Linked DNA regions of Homo sapiens: region 1 is linked to region 2. Evidence: fine-mapped expression QTL. Tissue or cell type: tibial artery. Region 2 holds a variant in brackets; the other region holds the start of a gene. All regions are shown on one strand. Distances are between the middles of the regions.

Evidence for each region.
Region 1: it holds the start of CHST8, and the variant in region 2 is fine-mapped to the expression of CHST8 in tibial artery (GTEx, PIP 0.99).

What each region holds. Positions count from the first base shown.
Region 1 is chr19:33,616,581-33,626,989 of GRCh38, forward strand. CHST8 (carbohydrate sulfotransferase 8) reads left to right here and starts at 5,373. Exons shown (of 5, transcript NM_001127895.2): 1 at 5,373-5,716. RefSeq lists an enhancer at 4,334-5,078.
Region 2 is chr19:33,640,745-33,651,153 of GRCh38, forward strand. All of the region lies in intron 1 of CHST8 (carbohydrate sulfotransferase 8), which reads left to right. Among named protein-coding and RNA genes, the nearest start is that of CHST8, 24 kb to the left of the region's middle. The variant C/T (reference allele first, on the strand shown) is at 5,040.

The DNA.
Region 1 (10,409 bases), 24 kb before region 2:
GCGACCCATCCTAGAGAGCCAACAGCTGCCCCCAGAGTACTCGAACCTTATTCCCTGGTTCCTGCCTTCTTCCCTCCTGGGTACTCAGCGCCTCTCTGCTCTGTTGGATTCCCCAGTGTCCTTTTAAGAAAGTCTGGCAGGGCATGGTGGCTCATGCCTATCATCCCAACACTTTTGGGAGGCCAAGCAGGAAGATGACTCAAGCCTAGGAGTTCGAGACCAGCCTAGGTAGCACAGTGAGACCCTGTCTCTACAGAAAATAAAAAATAAAAAATTAGTTGGCCATGGTGGTGCACACCTGTGTTCCCAGCTACTCAGGAGAACGAGGTGGGAGGACCCTTTGAGCCCAGGAGTTTGAGGTTGCAGTGAGCTAGGGTCATGCCACTGCACTCCAGCCTGGGTGATAGAGTGAGATTCTGTCTCAGAAAAATAAAGTCTCCCCTTTCTTTGCAAGTTAGTCATAGTTTCTGTTGTGCACTCTCTAGAAAACCACATCTGTTCACCAACTCTCTTCTGTGTTAAGGACTGGTGTCACTTTAGCCTGCCCCAGAAAAACTTCTCTTTAAAGAGAAACTATTCCTTTTTTTTTTTTTTTTTTTTTCAGACGGAGTCTTGCTCTGTTACCCAGGCTGGAGTGCAGTGGCGCCATCTCAGCTCGCTGCAACCTCCACCTCCTGGGTTCAAGCAATTCTCCTGCCTCAGCCTCCCCAGTAGCTGGGATTATAGGCGTGCACCATCACGCCTGGCTAATTTTTGTGTTTTTAGTAGAGATGGGGTTTCACCATGTTGGCCAGGCTGGTGTTGAACTCCTGACCTTGTGATCTGCCCTTCTCTGCCTCCCAAAGTGCTGGGATTACAGGCGTGAGCCACCATACCCAGCCAAGAGAAACCATTCTTATACCCTGAGGAATGATGGTGAAATTTCGAAATTGTGACAGGTATATGGGGTTCAGGGATGCCCAGAACCCCCAGCAATGTTGCTTATGCAGGGGATACCCACCCAGGCATATTGACATCAGGAAATTTCAGACAACTCAACTCAGAAGGAAACAAAGTGACCCTCCAGCTCCTTGAAAACCCAAGAGGTGACAGAAAAGGGGAAAGGAGAGAGGAGGAAAAGGCCTGGGAAGGAACATTCATCCCATAAGGTGGCCAAGGGATACCTTGGCTGGAAATGAGTCTGGGCCACGTTCCCTGGTGAGGAACTTTTAGGAATCATGGAATTGCACAGCAGGCCTTCAGATCCTGGGCCCCCATCCCTCATCTTTCGAATGGGGAGGTCGAGGCCTGGGGAGGGAAGGCATGGCCCGGAGCCCACACAGGCCCCAGAGAGCAGCTGAGGAAGGCAGGTCCGTTCCCAGGAGGAGTCTCCCGCCTGGATGGCACTCTGATCAGCACGTCACTGGCCTGTCTGTGTGTTGAACTGACTTCAGGAAGCCTTGGGGTCACAATATTGCAGAGGCCATTACAGGGCCAGATGTTGGACGTGGAAGCAAGGCCAGGCCACGTCATACCCTGAGGTGACTAGTCTGTGGGTGGCTAAGGGCAGTCTGGTCACAGGACTCCAATTCCCAAAATGCCATGACACCCTTCACCTTTCCTCTGCAGGGACAGTCTATTGTCTCTGCATACAGGGAACAGGCTCTGAGGGGTTAGGAGACAAGTTCAAGACCCCCTAGCTGGCACCTGGGAGAGCTGAAGCAGACCTCCTGGCCCATCCCATCATTCCCTTCTTCCTCCCATGGGATGCAGGGAGACAGATGAGGTGTTCCCGACCTGCCAGTATAGATGGCTCCCAAACTCCTCTGTGGAACAAGTCTTCTTCTTCTTCTTCTTCTTCCTCGTCTTCTTCTTCTTCTTCTTCTTCTTCTTCTTCTTCTTCTTCTTCTTCTTCTTCTTCTTCTTCTTCTTCTTCTTCCTCTTCTTCTCCTCCTCCTTCTTTTTCCTCTTCTTCCTCTTCTTTTCTTCTTCTTCTTCTTCTTCCTCTTCTTCCTCTTCTTCCTCCTCTTCCTCCTCTTCCTCCTCTTCTTCCTCTTCTTCCTCTTCTCTTCTTCTTCTTCTTCTTCTTCTTCTTCTTCTTCTTCTTCTCCTTCTCCTTCTCCTTCTTCTTTTTTTTTTAATAGAGTCTCACGCTGTCACCCAGGCTGGAGTGCAGTGGCACAATCTCAGCTCACTGCAACTTCTGCCTCCCAGATTCAAGTGATTCTCCTGCCTCAGCTTCCTGAGTAGCTGGGGCTACAGGTGAGCACCACCATGCCCTGCTAACTTTTGTATTTTTAGTAGAGATGGGGTTTTGCTATGTTGGCCAGGCTGGTCTCAAACTCCTAGCCTCAAGTGATCTGCCCACCTCAGCCTCCCAAAGTGCTGGAATTACAGGCATGAGCCACCATGCCCAGCCTGTTCTGGTTCCTCTCATGGCAACAGATGGAAGGTTCAGGACTCAAGACTCAGTCTTGCCAAACACAATGTGAGACAGTCTCAGCTTCCCACTGTGCCACCTTCAGCCTCCAGCCCAAAGACGGGCAGGAACCTTCACTTGCAGGAACGGCCTGAGGAAAGGGAGCCCAGAGCCAGTGGAGGCGGGGGTCTGCCTGCGTCCCAGAGCCAAGCCCCCTCCTCTTTCCTGTATCCTTGTTGCAGCAAACAGATTGGCACCTGAACCTCTCTATTAGCCCTTCTGGGGCTTAGGCTGTGGGCGCATGGGGCCATGCACTAAAAATGTCTTTCACCTTAGTTGGGATGCAAAGAGACAAGTTTGCCACTAATCTTTCGGTGGAGACACACATATCAAAAATCGCAAGTGAGCACACAAGGCTTCCTGCAGGGAATTGCAGCCTTCCTGCTCCTCCCTCGCTGCAGAGGCTGAGCCTGACTTTCAAAAAAGGGCACGCAGCCCTTGGCAAATCTCGGAGGAAAACTCACTGCGAGTTGGTGCCAGGGGCCTCAGGCCCCCTTTGGGGATTTCCCCCATGGCCTCTCAAAACAAGAAGGAAGTCTGAGTTAAAAATGGAAAATGGAGAGAATGTCAAAGGAATGCAGCGTTATTGATTCCTAGTGGTGTCTGCCTGAATATTAGATGCAAATAAGTGCTAATAAGTACAGTTGGGAAAGCTAATGGAAAAACCATCCTTCCCAGGAGGATCGCGGCACACAGATGCACAGTGTTGCTGAGATGGCTTGGCTCGCTCCACTCACTGGTCACGGCAAAGCCTGTATAGATGCATCCCAGGGAAATAAAGCCTGTGTAGACTTGTCGCATGGAAGTACTCATGGTCCAGAGCCCCCTTTCCAGCTTTGAGGCTGGGCTCTGGAAATGGGAGCTCCTATTATCTCCCCATTGCAGTTAAGTCTCTCTTTCTCTCTCCGTGTGTGTGCATGTGTGTGTGTGTGTGCATGCATTTGCCCTCTGGAGTGTTCATGGTACTGAAGAGATTCTCTTGACCATCAGGCCTCTGTGGCAAAAGTTGTGTGCTCTGTTCCAGGCCTAACTGCAGACAGGGAGCTCATGGGCAGCTGCCCAGCCAAGCTATGGTCAGGACCTTGGGTGGCAAGAGGGGCTGCAAGTGTGGGGTAAGGGGACCACAGGGACAGGGATGGGGTCATTGCACTGTGAGCTAGTCCGGCAAGTGACTTTTTGCTCACTCCACTCTCCCCTCTCTTTGTTCCTACCTTCTCTCCTGCTCTGCTCCAACAGCTTTGGGATGTAGGATGAATAAGGGTTCCACTGCCCTGTTTTTCCTGACACTTGAGTCCCTGGCCCTTGCACTCAGCTCCTCCAATCTGCACCTGACTGAGGCGGAGGAGGGTGATTTCAGACACACACACACACACACACACACACACACATTCCCCTCATGCGTGCAGCCAGTGGAGTGTGCCTGGGTCCCAGCGCAGCCCCAGGCCTGGGTCACTCCGAGCCTAAAGTCCTGGAAAGGGAACCCCAGAACAAAGCCTATCCCAGTTTGGAATCATCACACCTGGGCCATTCTCCAGATGCGTGGAGTCCAGCAAAATGGTGGCATTTTTGCATCTCAATTCGCTCATCTGTAATACGGGAGTGATAATGTCTACTCTGTTGCTGCAAGAATTAAAGGAAGACCATGATCTCTTTGTCATGCTTCTATTTATCTTCTTATCTGTCCTGGTCTATTTTTGGATGCTCTGAGCTTACCTGGGGCATTAAGGAGGCCTCATGGCCCTGGGGCTGAGGGGCTCCCTGGCCGTCCCCAGGAGTGGCTCTGCTCTCCGCCTGGTGTCCCCCACTCTGGTCAGTCAAGACCCATGGGCCCAGCTCACTCCCCAATTCCATCACTCACTCTAGGTCAGCTGGTAGGAGTCAGGCCAACCAGCCAGCAGGTACCATTAGAGAGGAGAGAGTAAGGGTCTTTCACTTTATTAAAGGCTTCTCTGCTGTTGTTTGAAAATACTGAGTGTCCCTTCAAGACTAACAGGTGACTGTGTGCACAGTTTCCTCCAGCTCCTGTGAGAAAGCAGTTGCCCCCCTTCCCAAGGCCTGCTTGTCCCCTGCAGGCTGGGGCTGCCTCTTCTTAGGAAGAACAAGGACCCGAATCCAGGGCCCCGTGTTCCTGTCCCTACTCTGTCCCGGTGCTGTGTGGCCGTGGGCCGGTTCCACCCTCCACGCTGTTTTCCCGAGTGTGTATGAAGAGGGTCGGTTGGCCCCGCTCTCAGGCTGGTGACCCGACACAAACTTCCAGGATGAAGTCCTGAAGGGAGCACCTGTTCGCAGGGCACTTTCAGCAGAATCTAGAGCCCCAGGGATTTGAGGATGGATGCGGACACCCGGGCCTGAGGCAGCTCGCGGCCTTGACCGAATTCCACGCGAGCTGAAGCCCAGGGATATCCCAGAATCTTCCTCAGGATCAATCTTCCGCCTTTCACCGGCCCTGCGCCCCCGCAGCATCGGGTCCTGGGCGCGCGCCCCTGCCCCGCTGTGGTCAAGGCCCGCCCCGGTGACGCCTGGTCCTTTTCCCGGGTTGGCGCCGCGTGCGACCCACCGAGGCAGTGGCAGCACTGGCCGCGGTCTGGAGCCTAGCGTCAGGCCGGAGTCCGGCTCTCCTGAACCGGGAGACCGGCGCAGCCCCAGCCACGACCGCTCCCACCCCCGCGGCCGCCGGACCGCGCCCAGCAGCGACTCTTTCTGAGAGCGCTGCCAGAGGGGCCGCGGGAGCCGCAGAGCGCGCGTGGGCGCGGCGCCCGCGAGCCCCCGGGAGGGCCGAGTGCATCGCTGGAGCGATCCCCGCCCGGCCCGGCCACCGCCGTAGCCGCCACCACGGCGGGGCGGGGCACGGGCCGGGGGCGGGGCGCCGGGCGGGCGCGGCGCTATTTCCAGCCTCGCCGGAGGCTTCGCTCTCACTTCGCTGGGAGCCTTCCCGGCGCGCAAGCCGGATCCGGCAGTGCTGCGGGGAGGAGAGAGGACGAGGCGGCGGCGGCAGCAGGAGGTGGGGGACCGATCGCGCCGGGGGCCGAAGAGGAACGCCGCCCCGCGCCCTCTCGCTCCCCGCACGCTCCGGCTGCCGGCCCCACGCTGCTCGCCCACAGATCGCACTGGGTTCCGCTTGGAGCGGGCGGAGGCACCGGGCCCGAGCTGGGTCGGAGGTCCTCTCCGCCGCCTGCGCGCCCCAAGCAGAGGATCCGCCGCGGAGAACCGCTCCCGGACTGGAGGCGCCCGCGGCCTCGGGTGCGTCCGCTGCGCCAGGTAAGTGGCTGCGCCCCTGCCCCACCCCTGTTCCCGCCCTGCGCAGGCTCCTGGCCTGCAGAGACGCCAGGAAGGGGTCCCGAGCGGGCCCCGGACTGCACCGCTCGCCATCCCCGCCACCGCACGCGAATGGGAGTCCGAAGCTGCGGGCGGAGGTGGGCGCGCGGGGCTCGGGTCTGGTTGCACTTTGGGGACCGGCCCCGGTAGCGGGAACTTTAATTAGACTTTCTCTCCTTGGATCTCACTCGCTGCCGCGCTTCTGGGAACTGCCGTCCCTCGGGCCCTCTTGGTCCCTGCGGACTCCCGCTCCGCCTCCTGGCCCTCGGTGCTGCCCGCGGGGAGGCGGCGTCGGGCGCTGAGCAGCGAGCGCCGAGGGCCAGGCAGGAGCGCTCGGGGCGCTGGGGCTTCCTGGCGCGCTCGGAGCCGGGGCTCCGGACGGGTTGCGGCGGGCAGAGACTATGGGGGAAGTTTAAGTGGCCTTGGCTTCCTACCCAGCGGCTCCGTCGCGCGCGTCCCCGACCCGCAACTCTCCAGGGCACCGGCCTGTGAGTGCTGGAGGCGAGTGTGCGTGCGTCAGCGATGGTGTGAAGGTGTGTGCGTGCGTGTGTCGGGAGTGCGGGAGTCGGAGCCTGGGGCGGCTCCAGGGGGCGGGGAAATGATCCGTTTGGCCGCGGGACCGAGCCGAGCTCTGACGGCGGCTGCAACTCCGGCTACCGACTCTGCAGACCCGCTCTGGCCTCGCTGGAGGCCAGCCGGGCCAGGAGGGCGATCACGGGTTTTGGCAGTGCCCGATGCTGGGGCTTGGGTCTGATGTGACCCCGATTCCTTCTCCAGTGCGGGACTCCCGCCGCCCTAACTTTCGCGTACATCTTGTCTCCAGGCCCGCGACCCCGACCCGGAGTTGAAGCGGCTGCGGCGCCCTCGGCTGTGGGCGCTGCTGCCCGGCTGTCTGTTTTAACCCAGAAGTAGGCGCCGATCCTGGGGCTCTCTGTCCTGCAGTCGTCTCCGGCGTCCCAGAGGACTCTGCGTCCCTGGGCCACTCCCGCTGGCTCAGGAGCCGTGATCAGCTCCGTTAAGGGGAACGCGCGTCCCGGCCCCTCTCCATCTGCTTGGCGCGATCTGGCGCAGCAGCAGAGCACGTGGGAGAGGCGTTGGGTGCAGGGAGGTAGTAGCTGCTTTGGAGTGGATGGTGGAGAGGGGCGGGGGACAGAGGGGTAAGAGGCAGATCAACCCCCTTTTATTTCCCACCGCCGCCCAAGGCCCCCAGGAGCTACAATACCAAGCCCACTTTCCTGGGTAACCTTTCTCTTCTGAGTTCACCTTGACCCTTGCCTACCTGTGGGGAAGTCTTTCCCTAAGTCCTGCCCTAGGACAGGGCACCCGTGGAGCAGGTGTGGCAGAGCCCTTAACATTTTCCAGCTGTCATGACCTTTCCTGCCCACCCTGTGCCCTGTCCCAAAGGCAAGGCAGACAGGCCACAGGAAGGACACTCATCCCAGCAGGAGATCCTCTTTTAATTTTAATCAGGACACCCCAAGCACAGAAGGCGGCGTGGGAGTTCATTCAGGAGCGTTCAGCAGACTGGCCTCTGTGAAGTGACCCACGGGAGGAATAACATTGGAACCCTGAAGAGAGGGACCTCTTGAGGGTCTGAATGTTGGTTCCAGTGGGACTGGCTGATCAATTATCCAATAGCATTTGAACACAGAAAAACCTCAAAGCCGGAACCTGACCCATTGCCTGGCCCAGTCGCCCTGGGACACACAAACAGTGCAGCTCATTTATTTACTTATTTATTTATTAACCTGGAATCAGACTCGGCAAGAGTGAATTATGTTTCCCGGGTATTGATTTTTAAAAAGACCCCAAATTAAAAAGTCAAGGCTTTCTTAAAGCAAGGTCAAGGATTAATTATTTATCGAGAGGCATCCATCAGGCAGCGTGGGGGCTCATTTATAAATTGCCTGAGCAGGCAAAATGAGCATCTTTTGATTTTCCTTGGCTCCAGTTGGGAGAGGAGAGCAGGCTCGTCTGACCTCCTGGGCTTGGTAGAACATCCCCCTCGGACTGTAACCGACGACAGAGGATGCTTTGTAACTCAGCCTGCTGTTAGAGATGCCTTTATAATCTTGTAGCCAGAATATCACTTGGGAAATTTCATGCATATTTGCTGTGTTTCCATAATGAACATTTACTGATTACAGGGTATCCAGGGAATTTCATTTTTTAAACATTTATTCAAATCTCTGTTTATGTAAGCTAATAAGTCTGGGAAAGTTCAAAAACGACTTTTTTGCCGTATGGTTGTTGAGAAAGTGTGTCTGGTGGGCTACTCTCAGAATTTGTCTTCAGTTCTCTTAAAAAGGGGAGAGTCAGATTTGCCTGATTGGAAACCTCGCGCAGGCTGCTCCCCTGCTCTGAGCTCTGAGTTCCTGCCAGAGGCAGCCTGATAGGCTTTTTGTGGTTTTGCTGATGGAAGAGAGGAAGGGGAGCTTTGATCATTGCTGATGCGTCTGGCTGGAGAAATTTTTAGTGAGTGCGGCTGTGCTTGTAGGGGCTGATGGGGAAGGTGTGGCCCAAGCTGAGGTCCCTGGCTGATGTCCCCATCTCCTGCCTGCTGCCTGGCCTGGAATCTGAGATCCCTGTCTTAGCTACATCTGCTGCTTTGCAGCTTGGAAAAACCTCCCTCCCTGATTTACTGGTGCGTGGCAGCCACACTGGAGAAACGTGGGGCAGCGGGGAACCTGTGAGCAGGAAAGAGGACACAGGATTATGGCAGCTTTCTTTCTTTCTTTTTTTTTTTTTTGAGATAAAGTTTCACTCTTGTTGCCCAGGCTAGAGTGCAATGTTGCGATCTCTGTTTGCCACAAGCTCTGCCTCCTGGGTTCAAGCAATTCTCCTGCCTCAGCCTCCCGAGTAGCTGGGATTACAGGCATGCGCCACCACTCCCGGCTAATTTTGTATTTAGTAGAGACAGGGTTTCACCATATTGGCCAGGATGGTCTCGATCTCCTGACCTCGTGATCCGCCCACCTTGGCCTCCCAGAGTGTTGGGATTACAGGCGTGAGCTACCGCGCCCCGCATGGCTGCTCTTTAGTGAGCAACCGTGGCAATTAGAGCCGATAAACACCATGTGGAATGAGTGGCCAGCCTTTCAGCTAACCAGAAGGTGACGAGTTATAAACTGGAGATTTATATAGTGCTGGCCCAAGGAGATCAATGTGACCCGGCAGTGGCACAGCAAAAAATGAAATAAATAAGTAAATATGTTTTTAAAAGATCGGCCAGGCACGGTGGCTCACGCCTGTAATCCCAGCACTTTGGGAGGCCGAGGTGGGTGGATCACTTGAGGTCAGGAGTTTGAGACCAGCCTGACCTACGTGGTGAAACCCAGTCTCTACTAAAAAGACAAAAATTAGCCGGGCATGGTGGTGCTCACCTGTAGTCCCAGCTACTCAGGAGGCTGAGGCAGGAGAATCACTTGAACCTGGGAGACAGAAGTTGCAGTGAGCCGAGATCATGCCCCTGCACTCCAGCCTAGGCGACAAAGCGAGACTGTCTCAAAATAAATTTTTTTTTTTAAATTGAGGTTGGTGCCTGGATGTAGATATGGCATCAGTGTCCTGCAACCTCAGAAAGTTGGCTGGGCATGAGCAATCTGCATGGTGACAGCGTGGTGACAGTAGGCTGTTTGGTGCTGTCTTTGGCGCCATATTCAGGGCTCATCTGACTCCAGAGCGGCTGTGTTCCCTCCAGAGGAAACCCACGGACCCAGACAACCCGGGGACAGAGCTGCATTAGCTCAGGTGCCAGAGGATGCGGCAGACGCCATCTCATTTCTTATCAGCTGGAGGATGTGTGACCCTGTGGTCAGTAAATCAGCATGGCAGATCGTGAGGCTTACAAATTGGTCATGGAAAAAAGTTGTGACTTTTACCCTGTACAAAACTACCTGTCATTTGTGATGTGGTGTTCTAGCCTGCACTGGCTGGATTCATTCCCGGACCCTTAGAAACTCAGCAATGCAGCCTGGGCCACCGAGAGACTGGGGAAGCCTCCGTGCAGGTGGGTTGACACCAAGAAGCAGCCCTGGCCCCATTGCCAAAGCCACCTTTTAGGAAGTCAGAGAGTATCTGTGCAATAATTTGGATGTTTGTCCCCTGTGAATCTTACCTTGAAATGTGATCCCCAGTGTTAGAGGTGGGGCCTGGTGGGAGGTAGGTCATGGGGGTGGCCCCTTTATGAATAGATTAATGCTATTGTGAGGCAGGGAGTGAGTTCTTGCTCTATTAGTTCCCACAAGAGCTGGTTGTTAAAAAGAGCCTAGCACCTACCCCCTACCTCTGTGATCTCGGCACACACCGGCTCCTCTTCTCCTTCCATTTTAAGTGGAAGGGCACGAGGCCCTCACCAGATGCAAATGCAGGTGCCATGCTTCTTGTACAGGCTGCAGAATTGTGAGCCAAATAAGCCGCTTTTTTTTTCCTTTTTTTTTTTTTTTTCTTTTTAGAGACAGAGTCTCGCTCTATTGCCCAGGCTGGAGTACAGTGGTGCTATCATAACTCACTGCAGCCTTGAACTTCCAGGCTCAAACAATCCTCCTGCTTCAGCCTCTTGAGTAGCTGGGACTACAGATGCACACCACCATGTCCATTAATTTTTAATTTTTTTTTATAGAGATGGGGTCTCCCT
Region 2 (10,409 bases):
CCTTCCTGGGTGGTCTTGCCCAAGAAGGAACCTCCCTCCTCCTTCCAGCGAAGTGGGGTGCTCCACGACGCCTCCCTGCTGGCCCCTGGGTGATGGCCAAGGTGCTGCTCTGCCCAGGTGTGGGGGCTGCTGGGAATATCTGCTGCTGATGCTCCCAGGGGCGCCCCGGGATGGGAACTGCCCTGGGCCCCAGGGAGCTCCTTGCCCAAAGTCACACCCCATCCCACCGCCAGGGACTGCTACTGCTGTGGGATCACAAAGGCCCAGCCCCTTGTCTCCATTTGGGACTGCCCTGAAGGTCCCTCCCAGCACCAGAGCACCTATGGGATGGGCTGAGTCCTCAGCTGAGAGGCACTGCTGTCGGCTTCTCTCTCTGCCTGCTCCTGCCCTCCTCAGCTCCTCGCAGGTGGCTGTCCCGAGAGCCCTTCCCTACAAACCTGTCTGCACCGTCCATCCCAGAGCATCCAGGCAACTCAGCCCAAGATCCTGGCTCTTAGGGACTTACCTGTTCCTAAACCCATGGTAGGCTGGGTGAGTCCTCTTCTGCCAGGATCAGAGTCCTCGGGGAACAGGATTGCTGTTTCTGGCCCGAGACCCCTTCTTGAGGTCAGGACTGGGGGTGAGGCACTGACCAGCTTCTCAGTCTCAGCCTAGATCTCCGCCCCACCACCCCCTGGGCAGGGTTTGAGGAGCAGCAGGGTTAAGGGCTCCCCCAGATCTGAGCTGCCACACCTCAGCTTGCGGTGAGGAGTTTTCTGCAAGGAAACTTCTATCTCCCCAGGGGGGCAAGGTGGCACACCGGCTGGGGATTGGTGGTGTATTGGAACTGGTTCCCATAGCTGAAGATGGAAGGGAAGAAGGGGGCTGGTAAAGTAGGGAGAAGGAGCCTCAGATAGCCCAGAAATGAGGGGGTTCTGGACAGCCCAGGGTGGAAAATTTAGCTACCCTTGGAGTCAGGCCTCAGGGCAAAGGAGGGGTATGGTCTGGGATGTCGGGGGCGGTGTGTGGGGAGGGGGGACCTGCTGCTTTGGAAGGGGGCAGTGGGACTCCCGCTGTCATCGCAGAAAGGGATGAGGGTTTCCAGGGTGGCCAGGTATTCACATATTCAAGAACACAGGTCCATTTTTATATGAAATCGCTTCCCCTCTGAAGTCTGGAGACTAATTCAGAATTTAAAACCAAAGTCCTACGCTGACCAAACCATATGTCTGTATATTACTTTGGCCTCTGGGCCTGAAGAATTTGGAGTCCAGAACTTCACTGACAAGGTGGATGATTTCCGCCTGGAGGATGAGGGCCTGGGGCCTAGTGTCTCACCAGAGCCCTGGAAAGGGACAGGAACCACCAAGACCACAGGCCATGGCTGCAGGGCTGTGGGGCTCAGCACCCACTGACTGTGGCCTTTGTTCTGGGACATCCCTGTCTGCTGGGAAGGGGCCAAAGCCCTCACCTCTGGGACTGCAGATGGGTGGGCGACTGGCTGGGCTCTGTGTGCCTCTGGAGTCTGGCCCACTCCCCCAGGACCCCGTGGATGAGTGGGCAGCAGAGGGCCCCCCCCCACTCCACCTCCCACTTCCAAGGAATCTGACCTCAGCATTCTAGCTTCCACCTTCATAAGTCTTTTTTTTTTCTTTTTTTCTGAGATAGGGTCTCTGTCGCCCAGGCTGGAGCGCAGTGGCACGATCTCGGCTCTTTGCAACCTCTGCCTCCTGGGTTCAAGCAATTCTTGTGCCTCAGCCTCCCTAGTAGCTGGGATTACAGACACGCACCACCACACTCGGCTGAGTTTTGTATTTTTAGTGGAGATGGGGTTTCACCATGTTGGCCAGGCTGGTCTTGAACTCCTGACCTCAAGTGATCTGCCTGCCTCAGCCTCCCAAAGTGCTGGGATTACAGGCGTGAGCCACTGCGCCCAGCCAGGAGTCTTAAAGATTCCCTGCGGAAATGCCTTTGCAAGAGCAAAAAGAAGATTAAAGTCTTACCGTCCTTTGAATCCTTCTGGCTCTGGTGTTGGCATACATTGTCCCAGAGAAGGGGCTACCTTACGTCTCTATCGCTTTATATACGTAAACTCGTAAATCATTTTCATTTTATCAAAATGCAATAATCTTTATGCCTACCGCACATAACCTGTTTAATCACTTTGCATATCATGAATTCTTTTCCATGGTGATGAATCTGTTTCTGTCTTGCTTTTGACACCTACACGGCATCCCTTTCCATGAATTTATCATAATTTATAGAACCGGTTCCTTGTTGGACATTTTGGGGGTTTTCGTTTTTGTTTTTCAATTTTAAAGCATGTTGACATGAACCTTCTTGCAGTATACCTTTGTGCCATCCCAGCATAAATTCCTAGAAGTGGAATAGTTGTCTCAAAGGGTATGCCCGTCTTTAAAACTTTTAGTACTTCCCAACAAATCACCTTCCAGAAAGACCAAGCGGTGCGTGAGCGGGCCTATTTTTTCTCATAATCACAACCGCACTGGGAATCTTTGTTTTTTATTTTTTAAATCTGTGTCAATTAGATAGGTTAAAGAGGGGCGTGATTATTGCCTTTTTAACATACATTTTATTTTTACCAAAGTCATGCATGTGCATAGCTTAAGAAGGCATAAATAATAAAAAAAAGGCTTTTAACAAATCTACCAGTTCTCTGCTCCCTCCCTCCCCAGCTCTCCTGAGCCCGTGTTCTGGAGGCAGCCACCTATGACTCTTCTAGCCATTTCCCCAGCAGGCACTGCAGTTCTGCCTCCATATTTCTAAATAACACACATATGCCGCAGGTGCGAAATGGCCAGCCAGTTGTACCAGCATCATTTATGGAACATTCACTCTTTGCTTGCTGATTTTTAAATGCCACCTTGACCATTTGCTTAATTCCTGTGTTAACTAGGGCCTCTTCTATACTCTTCTGTTCTAGCCTGACTCTTCTAGTCCCAGCACCCACGATTTTAATTATCGTAGCTTAGGAGCGCATTTCTAGTATCTTAGGAGGCAGATCCCCTCTATTATGATTCTTGTGTGATATCACATTTTTATTATTTTGGATGTAGGGCGTCACATTTCAAATAATATCTAGCGAAGATTAGTGTTAGGATAGTGTTTCACTTACACATAAATTTAGGATAAGTTTACTATTTATCCTTACAAATAAGGATACATTGACTCCTTTACTTTATTTATTTATTAATTTTTTATTTTTTGAAACGGAGTCTCGCTCTGTCACCCAGGCTGGAGTGCAGTGGCTCGATCTCAGCCCACTGCAACCTCCACCTCCTGGGTTCAAGCCATTCTCCTGTCTCAGCTTCCCGAGTAGCTGGGACTACAGGCACCTGCCACCACACCTGGCTAATTTTTGCATTTTTGGTAGAGATGCGGTTTCACCATGTTGGCCAGGCTAGTCTCGAACTCCTGACTTCAGGTGATCCACCCACCTCAGCCTCCCAAAGTGCTGGGATTACAGGCATGAGCCAGTGTTCCCAGATTTACTGTATTTATTATTATTATACTGGGTCTTCTGAGCTGATCCATGTACTCAACAAATATTTATGGAGAACAAAGTGTGTGCTGGGTGCATGTCAGGTACTGTTCTAGGCACTGGGGGATACAGCAGGACGTGAAGCAGAGGTGAATCCCAGCCCCCATGGAGTCAGTGTTCTGGTAAGGGCAGCAGACAGTGAACACTAATATACTTAAGTATATGATGGCCGGGTGTGGTGGCTCATGCCTGTAATTCCAGCACTTTGGGAAGCCGAAGCGGGAGGATCCCTCGAGGCCAGGAGTTTGAGACAAGCCTGGGCAACATAGCAAGACTCCGTCTCTAAAAAAAAAAATTTTTTTTTAATTAGCCAGGCATGGTGGTGTGCACTTGTAGTCCCAGCAACTTGAGAGTCTGAGGCGGGAGGATCAGTCGATTCCAGGAGGTGGAGGCTGCAGTGAGCCATGACTGTGCCACTGCACTCTAGCCTGGGCAACGGAGCAAGACCCTGTCTCTAAAAAAATAAAAAATAAATGAATTATGTAGTGTTAGAATGTGGCACTTGCTTTAAAAAGCCAAGTAGGCTAAGAGGGATTGGAAGTGTGGGGTTAGGGAGGAAGGGAAGGGTCAAGGTGGGCCTCCCTGAGAAGGTGAGATGAGATTAGAGGTTGGGAAGATGTGGACCATACAGATGGTCTAGGCCAGTGGTTCTCAGCCTGGGCGATTGTATTCCCAGGGGAATTTGGCAACAGCTGGAGACATTTTTGATGGTCATGACTCAAGGATGCTCCTGGCATCTGGTGGCTACAGCCCAGGGACACTGCTAAACACTCTACAGTCTATAGGACAGCCCCCATGACAGAGGACCATCTGACCCCAAATGTCCGTAGTGTGGAGGTTGAGAAATTCTGACCTGGGTGAAGATGAGTGTGGGCAGAGAGGGCACCCAGTGAAAGGAACGGCGAGGAAGTCAGGAGTTGGGGGACAGGGCCCGCTGGAGATGAGGCCGTGTGGGGGCGGGGGACAGAGATGTGGGCCCTGCAGAACAGAGTACAGAGTAGGAAATTCGACTTTACTCTGTGTGCGTGGGGAGCAATGGCAGGGTTTTGAACAGAGAAGTGCAATGATTGAAATTATATTTTAAAACAGGTTCCCTGTTGCTGCCATGGTAAGGGGCAAAGAGGCCTGGCAGTGGGAGAGGATGATCCAGCCAAGATGCTGGCAGTGGACGTGAGCAGATGGGTTGATTCTAGATATATTTGAAGGCAGAGCCAACAAGATTTCCTGATGGGTTAGATGGGGTGTGAGGAAGAGATAGCTTTTGGTCTGAGCGGCTAGAAGGATGGAGTGACCCACAGCTGAGGTGGGAAAGAGTGGGTGGAACAGCTGTTGGAGGGGCTTAGGCTAAACATTCGGTGAAGGACATACAGGATTTAGGATGTCCAGTACACATGCAATGGCAGATGTTGAATATTTGGTTGGATATACAAGTTTGGAGTTATGGAGAGAGGTTAGAGCTGGAGATGTTATACCCCAATGGGTTCTTCTTATTGGCTGC[C/T]CAGAAAAGCCAATACACAGAGAAGAGCAGGAGTATTACAGCAGAAAAAGAGTTTAGTGAGGGCCAGGTGTGGTGGCTCATGCCTCTAATCTCAGCACTTTGGGAGGCCATGGTGGGTGAATTGCTTGAGGCCAGGAGTTCAAGACTAGCCTGGGCAACATGGCGATACCCCATCTCTACAGAAAATACAAAAAATTAGCTGGGCATGCTGGTACATGCCTGTGGTCTCAGCTACTCAGGAGGCTGAGGTGGGAGGATTGCTGGAGCCCAGGAGTTTGAGGCTGCAGTGAACTGAGATGGCATCATGGCACTCCAGCCTGGGAGACAGAGTAAGACTCTGTCTCAAAAAAAAACAAAAGTTTAATAATTGCAAGGCAATCCTGGCAGTAGTTGGGAGATAAATTCTTAACCTGCCTTCCTAAAAATTTGGAGGCTAGAGTCTTTCAAGGATAGTTTGGTGGACAGGGTACTAGGGAATGGGGAATGCTGGCCGGCTGTGTTAGGGATGAAATTATAGGGGGTAGAAGTTATAGCTTCTTCATTTATTGTGCTATGACAGTTTCCGGGTGGGGGTCACAAGATCATTTGAGCCAGTTTCTTGGTATGGGTTACTGGTTCAGGTGGCACCAGCTGGTCCATGGGAAAGCAAGGTCTGAAAGATACCTCAAACACTAGTCGTAGGTTTTACAATAGTGATGTTATCTACAGGAGCAGTTGGGGATGGTGTAAAATCTTTTGACCTTGTGGCTAATTTGTTAGTTTCACAAAGGTGGCTTTAGTCCCTGAGCAAGGAGGGGGTTAGTTTCAGGAAGGGACTATTGTCATCTTTGTTTTCAAGTTGAACTATGGGCCAGGCACAGTGGCTCACGCCTGTTATCCCAGCACTTTGTGAGGCTGAGGCCGGCAGATCAGTTGAGGCCAGGAGTTTGAGGCCAGCCTGGCCAACATGGTGAACTCCTGTCTCTACTCAAAATACAAAAATTAGCCAGACATGGTGGCGTACACCTGTTTGTCCCAGGTACTTGGGAGGCTGAGGCAGGAGAATTGCTTGAACCTGGGAGGCGGGGGTTGCATTGAGCCAAGATCGCTCCCTTGCACTCCAGCCTGGGTGACAGAGTGAGACTCTGTCTCAAAATAACTAAATAAAAATAAATAAAATAAAGTTAAGCTATGAGCTAAATTCCTCCCACAGTTAGCTTGGCCTATGCCCAGGAATGAACAAAGACAGCTTGTGAGGTTAGGAGCAAAATGGAGTCAGCTATCAGATTTCTCTCGCAGTCGTATTACAAAGGTGCAAAGGTGGTTTCAGAGATAATACATTTGGGAGTCATCAACATATAGATAGTTTCTAAAGCCTGAAGACTGATCGAGGTCAGCGAGGGAGTGCAAATAGAGACACAAAGAGGACCAATAACTGAGAGCGGGAATATTCCAACGCGAAGACTCCAGGGAGATGAGGAAGACCCAAAGCAAGGCAAGAAGGGACCAGTGAGACAGGAAGAAAGCAGGAGACTATCACGTCCTGGGAGCCAAGTGAGGAAAGTGCACCACAGAGGAATGCATGGTCCCTTTTGCCCAATGCTGGTGGCAGGCCAGGTGGGTGAGGACCAAGGGCTGATCAGTGGGTTCTGCAATGTGCTCCAGGCAAGAATGGCTTTGGTGGAACAAAGGTCTGATTTTGGTGAGTATATGATAGAATGGGAAGAGAGACACTGGAGATTGTGAATAGGGATAACTCAAGGTGTTTTGCTGCAAATGAGGGCAAAGAAATGGGGAGATAGGCTTGGTGCGGTGACTCACGCTTATAATCCTAGCACTTTGGGAGGCGGAGGCGGGTGGATCGCTTGAGGACAGGAGTTCGAGACCAGCCTGGCCAACATGATGAAACCCTGTCTCTACTAAAAATACAAAAATTAGCCAGGCATGGTGGCGTGCACCTGTAATCCCAGCTACTAGGGAGGCTGAGGCAGGAGAATCACTTGAACCCGGGAGGCGGAGGTTGCAGTGAGCCGAGATCATGCCACTGCATTCCAGCCTGGGCAACAGAGTGATGCTCCGTTTCAAAATAAATAAATAAATAAAATAAAATAAAAAAGAAATGAGAAGATAGCTGCTGAGGGAAGAGGGGTTGAAAGGTTTTTGTTTTGGGGGTTTTTATTTTTTTTTTTAGGATTGGAGAAATCACAGTATATCTGTATGCTGATGAGACTGATAGAATAGAATGTGAAAAACAGGTAGTTCAGAGGGGAGAACTGTTTGAGCCCAGTCCTTGAGAAGCTTAGAGTATTGGAGCTGGTGGATGTGGGGGATTGGCCATAGGTAGAAGCACAGACAATTCTCCTAGGGTCAAAGCCGGGAGGGCAGAACAGTGGATGCAAATATGGTCACTAGGGTCTGGAAGTCCTCTCTCTCTCTCTCCTCTGTGTTTCTCTCTCTGTTAACAGCTTTATTGAGACATAATCACATACCTCACCATTCACCCACCTGAAGTGTGCAATTCCATGGTTTTCAGTATGTTCCCAGTGTTGTGCGCCCATCGCCACAGTCAATTCCACAACATTTTCATCACTCCAGAAAGAAACCCTGTGCTATTCACAGTCACTCCCCTTCCTTCCTGCCCAGTCCTAGGCAAACACTAATCTGTTTTCTGTCTCTATACATTTGCCTATTCTGGACATTTCATGTCAATTGAATCCTACAATGCGTGGTCTTTTTTTCCGCTTAGCATAATAATGGTTTCAGGGTTCAGCCATGTTGTATTAAAAGTACTCCCATCTCTAAAAAATAAAAAATTAAAAAAATTAAAGTTGACTGGGCGTGGTGGCTCATGCCTATAATCCCAGCACTCTTGGAAAACGGTCTAGCAATTCCTCAAGAGGTTAAGCATAGATTTACCAAATGGCCCAGCAATTCCACTCCTGGGTGTATACCCAAGAGAAATGAAAATATATGTCCCCAAAGACTTTGTACACGAATGTGTACACAGCAGCTTTATTAATAATCGCCAAAAGGTAGAAACAACCCAAATATCCATCAATAGATGAATGGATAAAATATAATAATAAATGTGTATATCTGTACAATGCAATATTATTCAGGCGTAAAAAGGAATGAAGCACTTTTTTTTTTTTTTTTTTTGAGTTGGAGTCTCGCTTTGTCATCCAGGCTGGAGTGCAGTGGGGCGATCTCGGCTCACTGCAAGCTCCACCCCCCAGGTTCACACCATTCTCCTGCCTCAGCCACCCGAGTAGCTGGGACTACAGGCGCCCGCAACTAAGCCCGGCTAATTTTTGTATTTTTATTAGAGACAGGGTTTCACTATGTTGGCCAGGCTGGTCTCAAACTTCTGAGCTCAATTGATCTGCCCACCTCAGCCTCCCAAAGTGCTGGGATTACAGACAGGAGCCACTGTGCCCGGCCTGTCTATCCTTCTGATCACAGCCATCCTAGTGTTTGTGTGCTAGTATTTCACTGTGGTTTGGGTTTGCATTTCCCCAATGAGTAATGATGTATCTCATTGGGGATGCATCTTTTCACATGCTTATTTGCTACTTGGATGTCTTTGGAGATGTCAGCTGAAAAAACACATGATTTATAGACTTAGAAAGGAGAACTTTATTTCTTAAGAAGGGGTTCACAACCTACAGGCCGGAAGCGCAGCCTCCACCTGAAAACCGAAAGCAAGCACTTCGAGGGAGGGCAGGGTGGAACAGGAATTTATGCTGAACGGGCTGGCCAAATACGCATATTCAGCAAGTTACAGGAAGAACTATGAACATTCATGAGGGGGGTCTGGACGCATACATACTGAACAAACATGCACGTTACATGCGTCCCATGTTTACCTTGTTTACCTTAGGTAGCAGACTTTGCATATAAATGCATTACAGTTAAACCCTACATGTCAAAAGGACATGAAGGTATTCAGTGCACAGCAGCCTCTGTAAACCGGCCAGAACCAGGCCATGGTGGGTAGTCTCTTATTAGGAGAAAGTTACTGAAATCAGTCTCTTGTCCAATCAAAGCTGCAGTTATGGCTGGTAAATCAGAGGGGTAGGGGGTCAGTTAGTGCCTGGCGGTGGGTAAGCTGCAATTGTTTCAGTATTGTTTATCTCCAAACCAGTGCTTGTTTAGCTGCTAGAGAAAAAGAAACTCCTGTGGCAGTTAGAGCATAGTTTACTTTTATAAATAGTAGTATAAAAAGTGTAGGGGTGTGTGACTTTATCCTTGCCTGGCATGGCCTTAGGTAATGTTTATAACTTGGTGTCTTACTGCCACAAAGAGTCTGTTCTGTGAGTCTTATGATCTCTGTGTTAATGTTCATGCTGGTCAGTTGTTGTGTCTAAACCACAAAAGGGATGGGAGTCCTGCTGTAGTCACTCTTAGGAGAGGAAGTCTAACGGTGGTTAGCAAGGGAGAGGTGTGTGTCCAACCTCCCGTCCCAGCATGGCCAGGAACCCAGTTTTTAAGATTTCTCTGGGTTCCTCTTGGCCAAGAGGGGGACTGTTTATTCAGTTGGGGGACTTAGGATTTTCTTTTTAGTTCTCAGAGACTATCTATTCAGATCCTTTGCCCATAAATTAATTGAGTTGTGAGACTATCTATTCAGATCCTTTGCCCATAAATTAATTGAGTTGTTAAATTTTTTAAATTATCAAGTTGGAAGGATTTTTTTAATCTATTCTGGATACAAGTTTCTTTTTTTTCTTTTCTTTTTCTTTTTCTTTTTCTTTTCTTTTTTTTTTTTTTTTTTTTTTTTTTTTTGAGACATAGTCTCTCACTCTGTCGTCCAGGCTGGAGTATAGTGGTGTGACCTTGGCTCACTGGTACTTTCTCCTCCCAGGTTCAAACCATTCTCGTGCCTCAGCCTCCCAAGTAGCTGGGATTACAGGCACCCGCCACCACACCTGGTTAATTTTTTTGCTTTTGTTTTTGTTTTATCTTGAGACAGTCTTGCTCTGTCACCCAGGCTGGAGTTCAGTAGTGTGATTTTGGCTCACTGCAAACCTTCGCCTCCCGGGTTCAAGCGATTCTCCTGCCTCAGCCTCCCAAGTAGCTGGGACTACAGGCATGTGCCACCATGCATGGCTAATTTTTGTATTTTTAGTAGAGATGGGGGTTTCACCAGGCTGGTCTTGAACTCCTGACCTGAGGTAATCTGCCCACCTCAACCTCCCAAAGTGCTGGGATTACAGACATGAGCTGCCACACCTGGCCACAAGTTTCATATTAAATATATGATTTGCAAATTTTATCTTGTTCTGTGGGTTGCCATATTTTCTTGATGGTATCATTTGCAGTACAAAAGTTTTCAATTTTGATAAAATCCAATTTCTCTTATTTTTATTTGTATTGCTTATGCTTTTGGTA